Homo sapiens: one gene and its partners. The protein of the gene in region 4 interacts with the protein of the main gene of each other region in a pairwise test. Each region holds a gene or a part of one and is shown on either strand. Other genes may lie near its edges.

Region 1 (5,565 bases), on a different chromosome or scaffold from region 4:
TTTTACTGATCTTTCATTTCACTTTCCTTTATACCATATAAAGAAACCATGGAACATGTTTTGTTTTGAGGACTTTGGTATTGTATTTTTATCCTCTAGTGCTTAATAGATACAACTTATGTTCAGTAATTATTTGTTGAATGAATTGAACTGGTGGGACAGAAGGTCAATTCGTTGGCCAAATGGTGTCATCATTTGTTTGCAGAGGCCTGCAGGGCCAGTTAGGCAACATAAGAGAGCAAACTAGGGGGTTGGAAAAGGAAATAGTGGGGCTTGTGGTGAGCTGTATCTGAGCCTAGATTAAACACCAGCCAGAGTTTTTGAGCTCTGTGGAAGTAAAGGCTTTGGATAGAAGACTAATGAATATATTCTCCATATGAATAATAGAAATCTTTAAAATGTTCTAGACTATTTCTGTTTTCCAGTTCACTGGGTACTGTGATTCACTAAATAAATATGTAAATAAATGAATATATATATGTGTGTGTTTATATATATAAATATATGCACACACACATATTTGCCCCTCTATATTGATGTACATATGAAATACTTTACCCTATAAAAAAGTTGGTTTAACAAAGGTCGCTTGTCTAATGTTTATTTGCTACATCTCTGTTTATTGATAATTGATGGAGCTTGCAAAAACAACTTTGTTCTAAGTTATATGCAGTTTGAAGAATTTCTGATTTCTGTTAGTGATAACATGCACAACTTTACTAATCGGAACAAAAGTAAAAGTTAAATATTCTCAAGAAAGCACTAGCTGAGCTACACACACACACATACACGCACAACATACCTTTGTGGCATTCTTATAGCTGGGGGACTTAACTGGCTCTGCCCTCTGACTGCTTGCCAGACTTAGAAGAAACCGAGAAAAAGCAGGTAGAAAAATGTTTATGCTCTAATTGCGAGTGTGGTAGCTGGCGTCCCTCAAGTGGAATGTATATGGGCTTCAAGGCTTTTGACCAACTTCACTGGACTTTCTTAGGGTCTTACCTCTTTTATTCGCACTGTGGGTTCAGGTATATTTATAGTATAGTGCTCTGATTCTTGATCATCTCACACCTATTTTGAAGTATTAGCATGAACCACATACAAGAAAGTCAATAGCCAAACCTTTTCCATTCTTCCTACAGCTCTTGAAACTGGCAGCCTTGAGAACCACCCATTTCCCTTACTACCTCTCACCTAAGCCTTTCCTGGTGCACGATGTTAACTTTACACTATGTATATTACTATTTAATGTCGACACCGCTGTCTTTTCATTTCACATCTGTTATGACATTGTGGCTTTCGCCCTTTGCGGTCAGGGACCATAACTCTTTGACATACTGTGTTAACAGGGACTTACTCAGGAACAGCCATTTGGCTGTTCATGGGGTGTAAAATTCACTGCAGTTTTGAAGCTGAGAAAAGATAGCTTGAATCCTTTTGTAAGTTCTTTGGAAAATGGACAGATTCTTTTTTACTGATAACCTATATCATCACCAAAATGGACCTGTCTTATAATTGACTAGACCTGTTAATGAAATGTTACAGACTAATTTGAGAAATAATTATTGGGTGGGAGAAAAGGGCATTTACTAGAAAATCAAGTAAACTTTGTTATCCTCAGGTATTTAATTGGAAGAATTGAGCAAAAAATTTGTTAATGTTTAGATTGATTTATGTTCCTTTTTCTAATCACTGTTTCCTGCTAAAAAAAATAACTGTTTGGCAAACTTTCTGTAACTCTCTATCTTTTCCTGGTTTATGTCTGTTGTCCCAGGCATTCTGATTACATATCCCAATCACAATCCTTTTATATGTTAGTATCTAATGTGATGTGGAAGAATTTGTATGGTTTACTTGAAAATTGCCTATTGTTTATTAAATTCCGACAGCAAGACTCTTCTGCATAAATGTTTTTGGGTCTTAAGATCAGATTTCAAGCTGGTAGTACTTCATTTCCCCTTAAGGGAAAGGATGTGTAAGATATTTATAAATTCAAGCATGCTTAAGGAATTTATTTAAATGGCTGCTAATTCTACTGCATTAGAAGCATGCCATTGATATGTACTGAATTAAATTTAAGGATATATCATCTCAAAGTATATTCTAGTAATCTTTAATTAGTTAAAAGTATCTTTTAATATTGTTAAGTAAAACTCATTAATTGTAGAAATGCTTAGAGATGAGTTTAGGCTACCTACCGATTTTTAAATTAAAACTTAATTTTTTAATCACTATAAATAAATTAGTAAACCTTTTAAAATATAAAGTTTTCTTACAATCACTTTGCGTAATTGAATATCTCATTCTTACCTAGCTAATGCTTTGTGTCTCCTGTCTTTTTGTTTCTGTTTTGGCTTAGTTTATTTCATTGATCTCTAAGCTGTCTTGTGTGGAAGGGAGAAGCTGCATGACTTGCTAGAAGTTTTACATGTGATGGAATTTAACCTCAGTTTATGTCTCTCCCTGCACAGTCCCTTCAGTCTGAATATGTTCATTACTAAGGCCTTGCCACTCCAGTGAAAGCTGTTCTTCTCTTAGACACAATTTCTTCATCTGGACGAGCAGTGGAGAGGGAAAGCAACTTCTTGCTGGAAGAATATCTCTGCCTTCTTACCTTAAATTAAAAAGAGCACTAAGATAACACCTTCAAGAGACTTGAAAACAGAAAACTGGTTAATGACTACTATAAATGCACTGAAACTATGTTTATGGAGATTTCCATACTTTTAAAGACAGTTTTAATGTTGAATTTGGTATTTTGAAGGGTTATTTTTAATGTATTTTGGTAATACATTTATTATTATATTTACATGTACAGTGTTACATTATATATGTATTGTGAACTTTAAAAGACTATTTTGATAAATTTATAAATATATAAAATTATGTAAAAACTACACTATATTTTGATTTAGATTTTCCTGCTGTTTGCTACCAAAAATTTGTATTTTAAATCTGTTTAGTTTTAGTATGGTTTTGTCTCTAATGAATAAATAATTCCTTCTTATTAAGAAGAAGTAAGGGAGAAAGTTTTTAGAAAGTGATTTTTATGCTCGCACTATAAATATGGCAGGTCAGTTCATTCTTTTGGGAAGTCAGTTTAGTTACACTGAGTTTATCCAAGTTTATCTCTACCAAGAGTATAATGGCATGGGATGGCTTATTTAGGACAATTCCCTTTCCTATTGTTTTTGTTGCTGAGCCAATTTGAGTTAGTTTTGCATCCTGGGGGGCTTTAAAATACAGCATGCAGTGAAAGATCAGAATTCACTGAATATTTCTTCTGAGAGCATGGTTTCATGGTTTTTCTCTATGAAATGACTCAATATTCCAAATGTTTTTTTTTCCTTCCTCCTTTCAAAAGAGTTCTTAACCCAATTAGGATATCCTGCTTTGGGTATGAGGTTGTTGTTGCCTGTAATCACACATGGTTTGACATCAGTTTTAAATCAATGGAGAGAAAAAACTGAAAAAGATGCTGCTAAGTAGTTCTCTGTATTAAAGGAGATATTTTTAAAACAGGGTACAACCCCCTGCTGCACACGCTAGCATATCTGGAACCTACTATGAAAATGAAAGGACCCTTATAGGTACTCACAGCCCTTTCATGTAAGTATGATCTGATATTTAGGTCTTCAGAAGCCTGTAGGTTTCATTTCTATGAGGAATCGAGGAGCGTTACATCCTGATATCCTTCCAGGCTGCTTAAGAATGGACTGCTTCGACACTGAAAGTGCTAGTTAAATGGATTCATATGAAGTGCTTTACTCCCAACCATTGAGTTATTTATAATGTATTTATTAGGGGAGGGTACCTTGAGTCTATTATATATGCTTCATCAAAACATCTTGTTCATGTTTTATGTTTTTAAAAAAGGCATTTGAATGAATGTTTGACTCAGGTTTGTTAAATTAACCTTCAGTAACTGCAGTACCAAAAATTACACTCAACTGATGAAAAAAACGAATTGTATGATTTAGGAATCAAAAACTAAAATAAGTGGAATTATGTATCTTTTCTAAAGTTAAAAAAGTAAAATATTTTATTATGAGTTATTATAAAAATTGGTTAATTGTATAGGAAGATGACAGTATTTTTTTCAAGTTATCATAAAAAGTAATTCAGATGACATTTGAGAAGTAGGGGAAAGGGAATCATGTTGACAGTTTTAGTTCTGTGAACACTAATTTGTGTGAAGCTATTAAAATGATTGTAAAGTTGACTACTGTAAATTTCCCATAATTATGTGTGTATATGTGTCATATGTATGTACATGTATATGTCTAAAAATTACTTTACACATGTGCCTACATAGACACACCAAGAAGTGGATGTATATAATATAGAAAGTATATAGCAAAGTAATTTTACTCTGATAATAAAAATTGTTTGACATGTATTTTGTTATGAATAGTTTATCTTCCAAAAGATATTTTGCTCTATTTTAAAGTGTAGAAGAATACACTGCTAATAAATAATAAAAGTTTTATTCAATTTACTTATTTTTTGGTGTTTATAATTTGAATTTTTGAGTTATCAATGTACTGAAGTCTCTTTATAATTTTATTTTTGGTTCAGTGTGGTCAGTGCCTTGAGTGTTTCAAGATCTCTATTCTGGATTTTAGTTTAGCTTTTATTGACTTTCTAGGTTGTGGCCATTGCCTGAAATACATGACAGTGAGCTCACAGAAACCTTATACTTTGAATTTCACAAAAATCATATAATGTTAGGTTCTTGCTTGCTTTCCCTTTATTTTTTTTACTGTCAATAAAATACTGATCCTGATCAGTGTTTTGGGTCCTGCTTAGTCATTTATGACTACTGATGACTATTGTGTGATTGATCACCAGTTCCTTTTGAAAAAGAATGCCATTTTTCCTAAATGAGAAATTATAGAAATCAGTTAGAAGAAACCTCACACCTGTTGGATCTATGCCCTGAAAAGTCAGTTTGGGAGGAAGAAGCTACACTATTTATTGGAGATATTTTATATAGTAAACTGGATCTCTTTGGGTTATGATGATTCTGAGGTTTTTTTTTCCTTAAATTTTTTTTTTTTTTTTTTTTAGAATGCAAAGGAAAGTTTGTGGGTGAGAAGGTAGTTTTACATTTGGAATTGGGATCTGCAAATAGCTGTCCTAACAACACTGCATGAAACAATTGGGGTACCAAGGTTTTCATAGGACCACATCTTAAAGAAGGAGATTTCTTATGAATTAATGAACCTGTTTCACAGGGCAGAAGGAAATCTTTTTTTGTACAGATTGGGTTTTTATGAAAAAGAAAGTAAAAAAAACAAATCAATTAGCTGGTTTCAGCAGATTTCTCACCTATTGAGTTTACCTGTTTCTTTTTTATCCTTAGATGTAAAATGATTTATAAATCTCAAAACACACCTGGGAAAACTATCTATGTGATTCAAATATAGCAGGAACATGAATTTACCAACTATACACAAATGTATTTTGAAAATTGTTTTTACTTCTATGCTTTCTTCAGTGACATGTTAAACCATTAATATGTTGAGTCTAATTAAACCAGTTGTTAGTATATAAGCTGAACAG
Region 2 (4,793 bases), on a different chromosome or scaffold from region 4:
TTCCTTCTTGATATATATTTAAGTCCCAGTAATTTGGTGGTATACTGTAGTTTACATCCTGCTTGTCAGATACAAATTCTTCCATGCTGTAACTGTAGATTTACCTTTCTATTCTTGAGACAATTCTGATATTGCTACCAAACAAATTTACAGTGCATTTTTTGTAACTCAGTAAAGGTAGTGATTTACTGTGTTTAAGACCAATTATTTCAGTGAATGTGTATATGCGTGAGTGTTTTTGTGAGTGTGTTAAATGTAGGTCTGTGTCACCATTTATGTGTCTTGGTACAGATACTTTTTTATATAGTTTTTTCAACCTTAGAAACCACAAAATTAAGAAAGAAGTGTTACCCTGTGATGAAAAAATAGGCTCAACTACAAAATACCATCAACTGGAACAAACTGAGTTTTGGAATAATTGATTTGGCATCTCCTGGAATATTATATAATTTGCTAGTTAAATTTTCACCAAAATAAAAAACCCTTCCCTTATTTTGCAGCTCTTTCTCTGCTCTCCCCTGTGTTGCAGGTTTGTAATGTTTGAGCACAATTCCTGGGTGAAATTCGTATTTGCCTCTGTGCGTGTTATTTGTGGCAGAGAACTGTGCCTGGTCAGCAGCTCTAGACCTGGAGCCCGTGGACACTATATGCGGGGCTTCAGTGGAAAGAGAGATCTGCTTAATTTTGTCCCAGGTGAAGGAGTCCAGCGGTTCCTATCCTGGACTACGGGAAGGTTCCCACATCTCTTTGTCCCATTAGTTGAGATGACTTGCAGTAGAAATTGTCCAGTGAGTGTTAAGAACTTATTGAAAGATGTCTTAGTTTTCTAGTTTTGTTGTTAGGCAAAAAGTGAGAATTTTTACTTCCATGTTAAATGTTAAATGAAAATGAATGCTGATTTAATATTTACATTCTTAAATGCTTAGCAAATCAGAATTGACAGTTAGTTTTGAAGCCTTTCCTATAAATCCTGGGATTTTGGAACTGTGAAGTTGGGTTGGTAAAAACTCAAAGTCTTAAAATTCCTAGGTGACAGAGCCATAAATTACAAGCCTAAATAACTAAACTTCTACTTATGAAATTTTAACTCTTTTACTGTGGCCAATAATAAACCATTTTTAAGAAAACTATTGTAGATGGTTTAAACAAATGGAAGGAATATTAAATTCCCGGGACAGGTAGCATCTGAATAAATGCCGTGTTCCCTTATCTGGCTCTTTAAATCGTTTGAAATATCATAGTTAGTCAAACTGTAAAGATTCCACTGTTTCATAGTCGTTTGGGTAATTTAAAGTTACGAGTTAACATTTGTAATATAAATATCACTGATACTTATGCTAAAACATTTATGTTATATGGTGGACAAATGTATCTTTCAACATTGCAGAAATATTACATTGGCACGACAGTTCCAAAATCAAGAGAAAAATGGAAAGATAGTGCAACTATAAATGTTATTTCTCAAGAAAGTTCAGCATGACTATAAAAGATTAAGTAGAGTTTGTTCATGCTTTTCCATCTTACTTTTCTGATTAAAGCAGGCATTTTAATATACTGATTGGAAAAATCTATTTATGTATATATCTCCTTCCAATGCATTACTGATGAAGTTTTCAAAATTATCTTTTTGGGGAGAAAAAAAAAGCTTGGAAAGATTGAGTCTTAATCAGTCAAATTAGTAGCACTTCGTTTTTCCTAAATGTACCTTTAAAATCGAAGTCATCTTTGGAATGTTTTAAAGAGTTAACAGTGTTACTAAAGACAATACCTGCTTTAAATAAGTTATCTTTTCCGATTTCTTCCACTTTGTTTTATTTTTTAGCCCATAATTTCACAATATTCTCACTTTTGACAAGGCTCAATGCAAATTAACAATTTTTAACAAGTGGTAAAGAACTTAGGGCAGACACTGTTAGAGGAAATCAAAGGAAGATGCAGAAATGCAGTCTGAGTTGGATGGAGGAAACGGTGACCTCAAGCCCAGTAACAATGAATTTTATTTGTTATTAGAGAAAATTCATATTTGTGGGATGCTCTGGGCCCAAACAGGACCCCAGGAGTTGCAGCTGGCAGTACTGCCCTGCGTTTGAAGACTACCTCTTTGTATTACAACCTTCTGGAGTTAGGAGTGTTAACTACACCAAGTTTATGAGAAGCTAGAATGAACTTCATTCTCCACCTCCCCTCCCCCAGATTTTCTGCTCCTGTAATGATGGTTGTAACTTTGTTTCACGTCTAGGGAGGACAAAGATAAACAGAAAAGAATGTGAGCCTGTAACCATTTTAGGATTTTTTTGGTGAACATTTATAAAATTAAAACAGTTTTAGAAGCATACAGGGGTAGAATATGCAAATGGTATACCCTTGGCATGTCTCACTTAGCCTACTAACTGATAATATGTTCACAGCATAGGAGTGAAAAATGGAAGAGAAAACCTTCTAAATCCATAGACTATAGAAAAGTCAGCTTGCCTCCATGGGCTCAAGTAGACCTAAGTCATCCCACCATCATAGCCAACCTAATTAAATTTTAATACTTTCAGTCTGGACACCAGATATCCATGAAGGTGTTGTTATAAGTTCAAGTCAGCTCTACTTGATATGAATAGAGGCCATTTGTAGATAGTGATGCAGTGTTTGCCAAATAAGGTTAGCAACCTTTCCGTTTGCATGGAGACTTGTTACTGAATTAAATACTTGTTTCTCTGCATGCTGTTACTTACATAGTTCATTTGCATTTTATTTGCTTAGCTCTAGTTAAATTAGAATGATATATTCCAGCATTAGTTTATCATGCTTGTGTTTTATTTTGTAATAAAAATTCCATATCCAATCATTTGACTGTCACTAACTTGTACTCTTTTTTTCATAATACTTGTAGCAACTCTTCTGACCTCTGGGACTACTGCAACAGTAGCCCTATTGCGAGATGGTATTGAACTGGTTGTAGCCAGTGTTGGGGACAGCCGGGCTATTTTGTGTAGAAAAGGAAAACCCATGAAGCTGACCATTGACCATACTCCAGAAAGAAAAGATGAAAAAGAAAGGTACTACCACCACTGATCCATCATATCATTCTATGTGGATGATGTTTTTAGTTCATAATAGTTTTTAAACTGATGTCATGGTTAAGTTTAACAGTGACTTGGTTTTCTTTTTGTTTTTTTGAGACAGAGTCTCACTCTGTCGCCCAGGCTGGAGTGCAGTGGCGCAATCTTGGCTCACTGCAAGCTCCACCTCCCGGGTTCACACCATTCTCCTGCTTCAGCCTCCTGAGTAGCTGGGACTACAGGCGCCTGCCAACACGCTCGGCTAATTTTTTGTTTTTTAGTAGAGACGGGGTTTCACCGTGTTAGCCAGGATGGTCTCGATCTCCTGACCTCGTGATCTGCCCTCCTTGGCCTCCCAAAGGGTTTTCTACATATCACACCATTGTCATTTAACTTTTAACAGGATCAAGAAATGTGGTGGTTTTGTAGCTTGGAATAGTTTGGGGCAGCCTCACGTAAATGGCAGGCTTGCAATGACAAGAAGTATTGGAGATTTGGACCTTAAGACCAGTGGTGTCATAGCAGAACCTGAAACTAAGAGGATTAAGGTAAGAAAGGACCTGCAAACACTTGATAAACCTGCGGAGAGTGAATGTAGGATTGTCTCTGCTGCACCTTTCTTGGAAGCCTTAACTGAAGCCAAAATGATTTTTAAAAGGGAGTAATTTATGGAAGGATAAAAAAACTTTTCAGGTAAAATAAGATGCTACTATTCTGGCCTAATTTATTGTAGAGGACAAAACAATTCTCTTTTTCCCCCTTTTTAGGTTCTTAGTTGAGACACTTTCTTGAAAATAAAAGTCAGATTAACTACAACAACAACAAACAAACAAGCAGACATTTGCACGTGCTGAACCCATTGTACGGGAAAGGCCTCAGTTAAAAGTATTTCTCTTCCAAGGCAGTGGCTTAGGGGCTTTGCTTAAATTGTATTTAAATAGCCATAGATCCTGCATAGTGACAAGATAAAGAAGAGAACAGTTTCAGTCTTTTAAAAGTCAGGAAAATGTGGAGAGATAGTAAAACCTGTTCCCAGATTTCTCTGGTGCCTGCTGGTTCCTTCTCTGGGCCAATAAACAAGTGCTGTCTCCAGTAAAGAAGGACTGATGTCCTGCCACCAGGCAAGTAGAGGCTGAGGAAGTGTACCCCTGCCTTTTCAGTGACTTGACTTTAGCAATCCTCAATATTTCGGGGAGAAATATTTTGGCTTCCCTCAGTTTGAAGTGTTAGGTTTTTGTTTCACCCCAGCTATGGAATTCTCCTGGTGAAATGGTCCTGCTGTTCTTCCTCACCTGCACCCAATCAGCCAGCATCACCTGCACTCAATCATGCAGCATCACCTGCACCCAGTCATCCAGCATCACCTGCACACAATCAGCATCACCTGCATCCAATCAGCCAGCATCACCTGCACCCAAGCAATCAGCATCACCTGCACCCAGTCAGCCAGCATCACCTGCACCCAATCAGCCAGCATCACCCACACCCAATCAGCCAGCATCATCTGCACCCAATCAGCCAGCATCACCTGCACCCAATCAATCAGCATCACTTGCACCCAATCAGCCAGCATCATCTGCACCCAATCAGCCAGCATCACCCGCACCCAATCAGCCAGCATCACCTGCACCCAATCAGCATCACCTGCATCCAATCAGCATCACCTGCACCCAATCAGCATCACCTGCATCCAGTCAGCCAGCATCACCTGCACCCAATCAACCAGCATCACCTGCACCCAAT
Region 3 (4,793 bases), on a different chromosome or scaffold from region 4:
CTGATTTTATTACTTTTTTCCCTTTTGAATAAAATGAAGGATATGAATAGTTACATGTTTAGATATACCTTAATTTATTAACAATAAAGTTTTGTTGGGTGTGGTGGCTCACACCTGTAATCGCAGCACAGGTTGGCCAAGTCAGGCAGATTGCTTGAACCTGGGAGTTCGAGACCAGCCAGGGAAACATGGTGAAACCCTGTCTCCACAAAAAAAAAAAAAAAAACTTAGCTGGGCCTGGTGGCATGTGCCTGTAGTCCCAGCTGCTCAAGAGACTGAGGTAGGAGGATTTCTTGAGCCCAGAAGGTCGAGGCTGCAGTGAGCAGTAATTGTGCCATTGCACTCCAACCTGGGTGACAGTGAGACCTTGTCTCTAAAAATAAAAAAGTTTGTTTTTTCTTTTTGCATATGATTATATAAACCATGCTTATTTCCATATCAAATATTTCTTCCTTTTTTAAGCAAATAAGTAAAATGTGAGTCTCTTTCTTATGTTAAATCTATTTAGAGAATAGCATCTGCTATAATGTTTAATAATATTTTTATTTGAAAAATTACATTTGCATTGAATTAGTTCAGATAATAAGCACTTACCATATGTAAGGCAATATTCATAATCAATGAAACAAACATAAAACATGGACCTTCCCTTCATGGGCAGCATGGCATAATGCTTAAGATCAGAGGATCAGAATCCTATCTCCATCACTTAGAAGTTTTGTGGTTTTGGACAAGTTACTTGAGATCTTTGCTTCAGTTTCTCATTTGTAAAATAAAGATGATATTACATACTTCATAGTGTTGTTTGAGGAATAAATTAGGGGAATTATATAGTGCTTCACATATTGTAAGTACTTAATAAATGTTAGCTGCTGTTATTTTGACAGTATTATTTACTAATACGCATCTGTAGACCAGTGTGCTAATTGTTTTTATATTGGGCAGTCTGTAAATCCAAAGTAATTAAATAGATTGTTTGACTCATTCATTCAACAAATATTTATTGCTCTTCTCCTATTTGCTAGGTACTCTTCTGGGAGTGGAGAATCAAAAGTGAATAAGATGACAAAATCTGTGATTTTGTGGTGCTTATATTTTAGTAAGGGACAAAGAAAGATAATAGAGGATGGTAAGGGTAGTAGAGGAAAAGGAGCAAAGATCAAGCAGCTTCATTAAACAAAAGTACAAGATAAATTCACTAGAAAAATTTTCTTTTGCAGTGTGTCTTATATTTATGGGTTCTGAAGATTCTATACCCAAGCACATTATTTCTTCTGAGAGGCAACCATGAATGCAGACACCTTACTGAATATTTTACCTTTAAGCAGGAATGTGAGTACTGCCAGAAGAAATGTTTTCACTTCCTCAGTATTCTTTTGGACTTAAGTGGGTAGTAAGAGTTTTGAAGACTTTACAGTGCAACATGTAAGGACAGATTTCATGTCCACACATAAAGCTTTGAGGAAAGTTGTCGAGCACTCTCTGGTGTTTAATGGTATTAAGAAGTTTTTGGTGGGGCATGGTGGTTCACGCCTGTAATCCCAGCACTTTGGGAGGCCCAGGCAGGGGGATTGCCTGAGCTCAGGAGTTGGAGACCAGCCTGGCCAACATGGTGAAACCCCATCTCCACCAAAAATACAAAAAAAAAAAATTAGCTGGGTGTGGCGGCACACTCTTGTAGTCCCAGCTGCTCAGGAGGCTGAGGTGGGAGGATCGCTTGAGCCTGGGAATCGGAGGTCATAGTGAGCTGAGATCATGCCACTGCACGGACAATTGCCTGGGCAATAGAGTCAGACCCTGTCTCAAAAAAAAAAATTTTTTTTCATTTCAGAATTTCTTATTATGTTTAACTTTTACAAACATACTTAGAGTTTTATATATAAGTTTTAATGTTACAATTAATTTTTCTAAGCCAGGCACGGTAGCTCACGCTTGTAATCCCAGCACTTTGGGAGGCCGAGGCGGGTGGATCACCTGAGGTCAGGAGTTCAAGACCAGCCTGGCCAACACGGCAAAACCCCATCTCCTAAAAATACAAAAATTAGCCAGGCGTGGTGACATGTGCCTGTAATCCCAGGTACTCAGGAGGCTGAGGCAGGAGAATCACTTGAACCTGGGAGGCGGAGGTTGCAGTGAGCCGAGATCGCGCCATTGTACTCCAGCCTGGGCAACAAGAGCGAAACTCTGTCTCAGGAAAAAAAAATGTATATATTTTTTCTAACAGGAAAAAATAAAAACCAAAAGAAAAAAATGTTATTTTGCATTGGAGATTTTTGTCCTTCAATCTTGAGGCATTCCTGTGAGGAATCCTAACAAATTGTTTATCCTGTTACCATTGCAGATCATTTCAATCATGCTATTAATGATTGAAATTCTTCTTAAAATTTTTTTGTTTTTTTAAATATCATTGTTTTAAGACTAGTCAGGTACAGTTGGTGAAATTCTTAACCTGCAATGTTTATCCCTTTTCTCTCTCAAATTATTATAGCAATGGTAATCTAATACCTGTAAGTAACCATATGTTACAGAACAAGATTAGGCCTTTTTCACACCTCAAACCTTTGTGCTTTTTTATTATTTTTGTTATTTTTATTTTTTTTTTGAGACAGTCTCGCTCTGTCGCCCTGGCTGGAGTGCAGTGGTACAATCTCGGCTCACAGCAACCTCCTCCCGGGTTCAAGTATTCTCCTGCCTTAGCCTCCCAAGTAGCTGAAATTACAGGCATGCGCCACCACGTCCTGCTAATTTTTGTATTTTTGGTAGAGGCGGTGTTTCACCATGTTGGCCAGGCTGGTCTCTTAACTCCTGACCTCAAGTAATCCACCTGCCTCGTCCTCCCAAAGTGCTGGGATTACAGGTGTGAACCACCGCATCTGGCCTGCCTTTGTGCTTTTTAAGTTAATATTTATGACTGTATTAAGTAGAGTTAAATTCTAAAAGCAGAAATAATTTCAACGTTTTGAGACTCAAAACATGATCCAATAAAGGTCATACTAAGTAGAGACTTGCAGCAACAGGAGAAAAATACAGTGATGGGTAGTGGCAGAAGTGGCATACTCTTATAACTTCAAGGATCAGGCAGTTAACCTAAATGAGTAAGATAAGACCTGGAAAGTGCATGCTTGACCTAAAAGCAGTCAAATTAGAATTTTTATTAAACCACAGTGCTAGAAAACAGAGTCGTTAGCAGACTGCCAGTGTAGAATCTCTGGTTGCTGGATATATATATAGTTTTTTTAATATTTGAATATTACAGTATTAAAACAGGAAATAGGAACTAAGTTCTTTTTCTTTGCCTAGATAAATAACAAACCACCTACCAAAATCTCATCAAAACCAAAATAGGAATTTAAAGTTGTAAAGGAGCAAATGAAAGTGCATGATATCTCTCTAAAAGTAAATGATAGTTTGATTTGGTAGAGTTTTGTCTTTCTTGTGTTTCTATATTGGCTTCCTGCTTCACTGCCCATTTTAAAGTATTCATTGTAGGCAAGAGGAACCCCTCAGCTTTTCTGACATGAGCATGCTATTATCTTTTATTTTTCAGAAAAAATGGATGAACCTTGAATTTTGTTGTGATGATGTAGTCATCTTGCCTGTAATAAGAATAAAGTAGTCATTGACTCTTAGAATAAAATAAAGCAAGTATTAAAATGATTTTAACCTCAAGTACAGTTCTAATTTTGCCTTATTTGGCCGATAAAGGTGAAGGGTTGAGCTGTTTTTAAGAGATTTCTTTCTTTTTTTTTTTTTTTTGAGACAGAGTCTTGCTCTGTCGCCCAGGCTGGAGTGCAAGTGGCACGATCTCGGCCCACTGCAGCCTCCACCTCCTGGGTTCAAGTGATTCTTGTTCCTCACCCATTGAGTCTCTGGGATTACAGGTGCACACCAGCATGCCTGGCTAATTTTTGTATTTTTAGTAGAGACAGTGTTCTGCCATGTTGGCCAGACTGGTCTCAAACTCCTGGCCTCAAGCGATCTGCCTGCTTTGGCCTGTCAAAGTGCTGGGATTACAGGCGTGAGCCACCGTGCCTGGCCTGTTTTTAGAGATTTGACTGACTTATTTTTAACAATACGTGATGACTTTTCTGTCATCCAAAATAATTTTAGAGAGCAAATATTTTGCTTCATAAGACATAACATCATCGAGAATAATTTTAGAGAGAGCAAATATTTTGTCTTCATAAGACAGATAACTTTGCATATTTTTGTTGATTCTTATAGGGGAAGATGCTTTCCTTAAAAAAATTGTGTGCAGTAAGATTTATTCTCTGTGGTATTTACTTCTGTGACTTTTGACACTGCATAGAGTTGCCCACTACCACTATCATGATACAGAAAAGTTTTATCATGCCATAAGTTCTCTCTTGCTACCTTTTTATAGTCACCCCTTCACTCACTCTGAAGCCCTGGCCACCACTTTGCTGTTTACTGTCTATAATTTTCTTGCCATCTGTCTGTCTGTCTGTCTGGGCTATTACTACAGTTGAAACTGTAACTATCTCAATTTCATTATAAATAGCTATAAGATATAAAGGAGGGGAGAGAACAAGAAATAAAAATCTAATATATATGTTTTTAAAATGGTCACACCACCACCAGTAATGTAATTTTCAATTAGTTTTTTGTTTTTCTAGGTAAAATTAAGTATTCGGAAAGAGTCTATGAAGCTTGTATGGAAGCTTTTGATAGTTTGCCTCTTGCTGCACTTTTAAACCAACAGTTTCTTTGTGTTCATGGTGGACTTTCACCAGAAATACACACACTGGATGATATTAGGAGAGTAAGTATAT
Region 4 (4,793 bases):
TGACACAATCATAGCTCACTGCACTCTCAAACTCCTGGGTTTAAGCGATCCTCCTGCCTCAGCCTCCTGAGCAGGTGAGACTATAGGTGCGGGCCACCACAACTGGCCAATTTTTTAAAAATCGGTTCTTATTATGCTGCCTAGACCAGTCTCACCTCCTGGCCTTAAGCGATCCTCCTGCCTCAGCTTTCCAAAATGTTAGGATTATGGGAATGAGCTACTGTGCCCAGCCTTCAGTGCTTGTTTACAGTATGACGGATCAGGCTGGAGGGAACCCTGTCGCACTAATTGCAAGTAAGCATCATTACCCGCTACTTTTGTCTCAAGAACACTGTGCACTGAGGAAGGACATCGCAAGTGCTAAAAGTCGAATGCGATGCCAGGCTGCAGATTGTAAAGGTGCATGCAAGAGGTGGCAGGGCTCAGTGGTGAAAAGTTCTGTGCTCGGTCCAGGAGACTTGGGTCAAGCCCTAGCACTGCTACTCACTGGGGCCAGACCCTGTGCAAAGTTTACCTACTCTGAGCCTCAGGGTCCTCTCCATGAAGATGGTGACAACCACCCCCACATGGGGAAGCAAAACAAGACTCAATGTATAATAAAGGTGCTGGCACCCACAGACTGTTCACCAGCCTTTACTACTTTACACGGTAAGTGCTGGTTAAGTATTTGCTGAACTGACAAATAGTAATATAACCAAGAAACAATTGCTGCCCAATCCCATGAACACTCAGTTAAAAGTTTGGAGCCAAGATACTTCAACTGCTTAAAAACTACACAACTTCAAAACCAGCTCATTAAAAAAGAAAGCAGGAGTGGGAGGAAACCCTCAGTCCTCGGCCTGAACGCTTGGTGGCTGTCGCTTCAAGGCATGCTGCATGAGACGCATAAGCAAACGAATTTCAGATCATCAGAAAGATCTTCCTCATTTTCTTCTGGCCCTGACCCACCTTCCGACTTTCTCCTTGACACTAACTTCCTTGTCAAAGCCTCGCGTCCATTAAGCATGTCTGGTATTTGATCTCTGTACCTTCCATCCCATAACTAGAGTGCCCTTGTCACAGATCTTCATCTTTTGCAATTCTGTCTTCTAAAGTCAGAAAAACATAACATCCTCCACAAAGACTTGTGCAAGGGGCCCATACTCTGCGGCCCCAGGGAGTTTTCTCCACAGGCTGCTTCCACTGGGACTGCGTCCCTCTCACTACTCCAGCTACCCCCAGGCTTTCAGGAAGTGGGGACAGCGTGCTCCCTAGCTCCTAACCGCACTGCTCACCGAGCACAGTTGACAGTTCCGTCCCACCTATACATTACCCCATCCATGGAGAAATGCAGCGATAATCCAAGTTCACAGAGACGGTGGAGAAAGGGCTATGTGGATGCATTGAAAACAAAACACAAACCCGAGGGGCCAGGTGATCCCTTCTCCCTTCCACTCTTACTAGAAAACGGCAGCGTGTTTTCTCAGGCTCCCTGAGCTCAGAGGCTCCTGAGTTCGAGATCTGCCTAGGAACCACCTGGGGAATGAAAAGAGAAAGACGGCCTCCTGGCCCCTCGCAGAATCAGGTTCAAGAGGTCAGGCTGAGCTCAGGAGGCTGCTTTTTTTTTTTTTTTTCTGAGACAGGTCTCACTCTGTCACCCAGGCTGGAGTGCAGTGGTGCAATCTTGGCTCACTGCAACCTCTGCCTCCCAGGTTCAAGCAATTCTCATGCCTCAGCCTCCCAAGTAGCTGGGCCTGCAGTCTTGCCTACCGTGACTGGCTAATTTTTATATTTTTAGTAGAGATGGGGTTTCGCCATGTTGCCCAGGCTGGTCTTGAATTCCCGACGTCAGGTGATCCGCCCACCTTGGCCTCCCAAAGTGCTGGGATTACAGGCATAAGCCACCGCGCCTGGCCTTACTTTTCATTTTTTAAACATCCACTTCCCCGCCATATATGCTATAGCTCAAATGCGGGTGATTTAACGATTTTTAAAGAAACATCATAAAAACCAAAGTGAACAGAACACAGAGGAACAAGGCATAAAGTGACGTTCAACAGACGCAGCTCCTGGGGGAGGAGGTGGAACAGTGCTTGGACCCGCCATAGCCACGGACCCATGAGGGATGGTGCCACGCAGGGGCTGAGACCAAGGTCTGGGTTCCCAGAATGGAGCAAAAGGGAGGGCAAGCAATGTGAAGGAGACGGCGAGGACTCCTGCGCCTTCTAGAAGGTGAGGGGACCCCATTTTCATGTCCCACCACTGAGCTCTCCCAACAATCCAGCTGATGCAAGCAGCAAATTCAAGGGCTACAAAGACTAGTATGAAAAGAACTTTTTTTTTTTTTTTAAAGCATGCTTGAATTATCCGCTGTTACATTTTTAAAGGAGCCTAAATCCATGCCCACTCAGCAGTGCACACTAAGCTGCCTGCTCCAAAGCAGGGAAAGAGGACAGGTCAGGGGACAGAGCAGAAGGACCACAGACGCTCCTGCTGTGTGTCACACCCTCCAGACACCCACCGCAGGGCTTCTGGTTGGCCCCTCTCCTGAGCTGTCTCCAGGGCTGCACGCCAGCCATGGTTCCAGGCTTGTACCCAAGTGGTGGGTCCTACTGCCAATTGTCAGGCTCTAAAAATTGGAGGCCAAGCGCAGTGGCTCATGCCTGTAATCCCAAAACTTTGAGAGGCTGAGGTGGGAGGATGGCTTGAGCCCAGGAGTTTGAGAGCAGCCTAGGCAACATAGCAAGACCGTGTGTCTACAAAAATTAAAAACAAAACAAAACAAAAAAAACACCAAAACCTTAGCCAGCCATGGTGGCATGAACCTGTGGGCCCAGCTATTATGGAAGGTGGGAGGATCACTTGAGCCCAGGAGTTCAAGGCTGCAGTGAGCTGCAACTGTACCACTGCATTCCAGCCTGGGCCACAGAGCAAGGCTGTCTCAAAAGAAAAATAAAAAAGTAAAACAGTAAAAATTTGGTGTGTAAAGGGTGACTAATTCAGGAAGACTCCATTAGAAGACCCAGGAAGAGCATTCGGGTCTCTTTCTCTTAATTTAATACGAACTCCCTGAGCAAATGACATTTCTGCATATTCTTAGAACTCTAACCAACCCCAAATTACTTTTTGTGAGTAATCACAATCTGCTGCCTCAAAATGGCAACTAGAAAACAGACCACACTCAATTTCCTAGCACATTTTGGAATCCTTATATGGATGTGTATAGAAAATGATTTAGAGGGAACAGATACCTGGTCAAACAGGTAGACTGTGACATCATCGAAAAACGTGACTGCCTTCTTTTCCTTCTTCCAGTCCTCGGGCAGTGGGTCGGGGGCATTGGCCGCTGTGGGCTTCAACAGACTCCGCAGGTGCCTTCCGTCCTCGTTGCTGAGGATGATGGGCACGGGGTGCTCGGTCTCGTCCTCCGACTCGGAGCTGAGGCTATGCAGGTTGAAGGCCCGCAGGTCCTCGTCCGAGTCGTCGCTGTTTTCGTCCTCCTCGTCTGCATCCATCCCGTCCTCTGAGAGGTCGAGCATCCCTGACACCCCGAGTTTCCCCAGGTACTTCCCTTCGATGTCCGGCTCCTTCAACTTCGGGCCCTCGGAGTGGCTGGACAGGGACTTGTCCAGCGCAGAATTGGTGTAGGCAAGGAGTTCGTTCGTGTTGGTCCCCGTGGAAGCGAGGGTGCAGGGGCGATCGTCCTGTGTCTCGAAGTCATCGCCGCTGCTAAGTTCTGCATTCAGCACACTCCAGGGACTGCTGGCCTCGTCTTCCGTGGGATGCACCTGCTGGGGAACACCAGTCTGTGCTGGCTCCGGCGTGGCTCTTAATTCCAGGTCACTGGAGTTGTGCAAAGCAGACAGACAACTTTCATCTGGCTGGCTCTTTCTGGCTTCCAGGCAGCTATCCTGGGCAGCAGGACTTTGCTCGGGGAGGACTGGCTCGGGTAGGGGCTGCTCCTGTACCAACACCAAGGCGGATGGGGAGGTTCCCGGGACCTCCTCAGACCTTTTCTCGGGCTCAGAGTCATTGTCTGAGAAGTACGCAGAGTCTCGGTATGAACCCTGGGAGCCAGCTGTGAACGTCTCAGGGGTCACTTCTGTGCCTCTGTGACCATCGCCGGCATCTGAGATGACAATGACCGGGTTGGGAGGCAGACCGCTGTGGCCGCCATCGCCCGTGGTGGCTGGTTCTGAGTCTGCGGTGCCCTCGGGAGCGGGATGCAAGGTCCACTCGGGAGACTCCAAGTTCTCTGTTTCGTAGCCACTGTCTGCCGGCTTATCGGGGGGCACTAGTTTCTGGGGAGTGTGAGATCCTAAAGAGTCCAGTAGCGCTTCGTGGACATCCACTGACTCCAGAGAGTCCGGGGTTTCCAGGGACGGCTCAGAGGCTGGGAAGGGTGCTGACAAGCTGTCCTCCAGGAGGCTGTCCTGACTGGTTGAGTCCGAGGAGAGGGCAGACACCAAGCCTGCTTCTTTTGCTGCGTCTTTAGAATTGAGCTGATTTAAAGTCTCCACAGCCTCTAAGTTTTTCTCTAGCCGGCGATGACTGTGATGGTCTTCCGAAAATGGTTTATTGTGCAATTCCTGTCCCAGTTCCGGGAGACTACTCCCTACACTCACCCTGCTGGCAAGGATGTCATCAGCAAGAACAGAGTCACTTTCGGTGAGTCGCAGGGTCTCCTCACTCTCGCCAGGAGAGTCCTGGGACCTGTTATCCAGGCTGTGGGTTCTGGCATCAGTTGAGAGAATTTCAACCGGGACAGTCACAGCGTCTGGACTGATGTCCTGGTGGAGACAGTCCTCCGGGAC

The links. The genes of interacting proteins can lie anywhere in the genome.
Region 1: the proteins of LMTK2 (region 4) and CDC14A interact in a two-hybrid assay, tested with the Homo sapiens proteins (one study listed by BioGRID and IntAct).
Region 2: the proteins of LMTK2 (region 4) and PPM1K interact in a two-hybrid assay, tested with the Homo sapiens proteins (one study listed by BioGRID and IntAct).
Region 3: the proteins of LMTK2 (region 4) and PPP3CB interact in a two-hybrid assay, tested with the Homo sapiens proteins (one study listed by BioGRID and IntAct).

The regions. Positions count from the first base shown.
Region 1 is NC_000001.11:100,515,780-100,521,344, forward strand, and holds the end of CDC14A (dual specificity protein phosphatase CDC14A), read left to right. Parts: intron 1-2,471; coding exon 2,472-2,501; 3' UTR 2,502-4,498; downstream 4,499-5,565. UniProt on the Homo sapiens protein: Dual-specificity phosphatase. Required for centrosome separation and productive cytokinesis during cell division. Dephosphorylates SIRT2 around early anaphase.
Region 2 is NC_000004.12:88,266,995-88,271,787, reverse strand, and holds part of PPM1K (protein phosphatase Mn(2+)-dependent 1K), read left to right. Parts: intron 1-500; coding exon of another isoform or gene 501-693; intron 694-2,881; coding exon 2,882-3,047; intron 3,048-3,453; coding exon 3,454-3,598; intron 3,599-4,793. UniProt on the Homo sapiens protein: Serine/threonine-protein phosphatase component of macronutrients metabolism.
Region 3 is NC_000010.11:73,471,458-73,476,250, reverse strand, and holds part of PPP3CB (serine/threonine-protein phosphatase 2B catalytic subunit beta isoform), read left to right. Parts: intron 1-1,220; coding exon 1,221-1,332; intron 1,333-4,637; coding exon 4,638-4,783; intron 4,784-4,793. UniProt on the Homo sapiens protein: Calcium-dependent, calmodulin-stimulated protein phosphatase which plays an essential role in the transduction of intracellular Ca(2+)-mediated signals.
Region 4 is NC_000007.14:98,193,010-98,197,802, reverse strand, and holds part of LMTK2 (serine/threonine-protein kinase LMTK2 precursor), read right to left. Parts: coding exon 3,231-4,793; intron 1-3,230. UniProt on the Homo sapiens protein: Phosphorylates PPP1C, phosphorylase b and CFTR.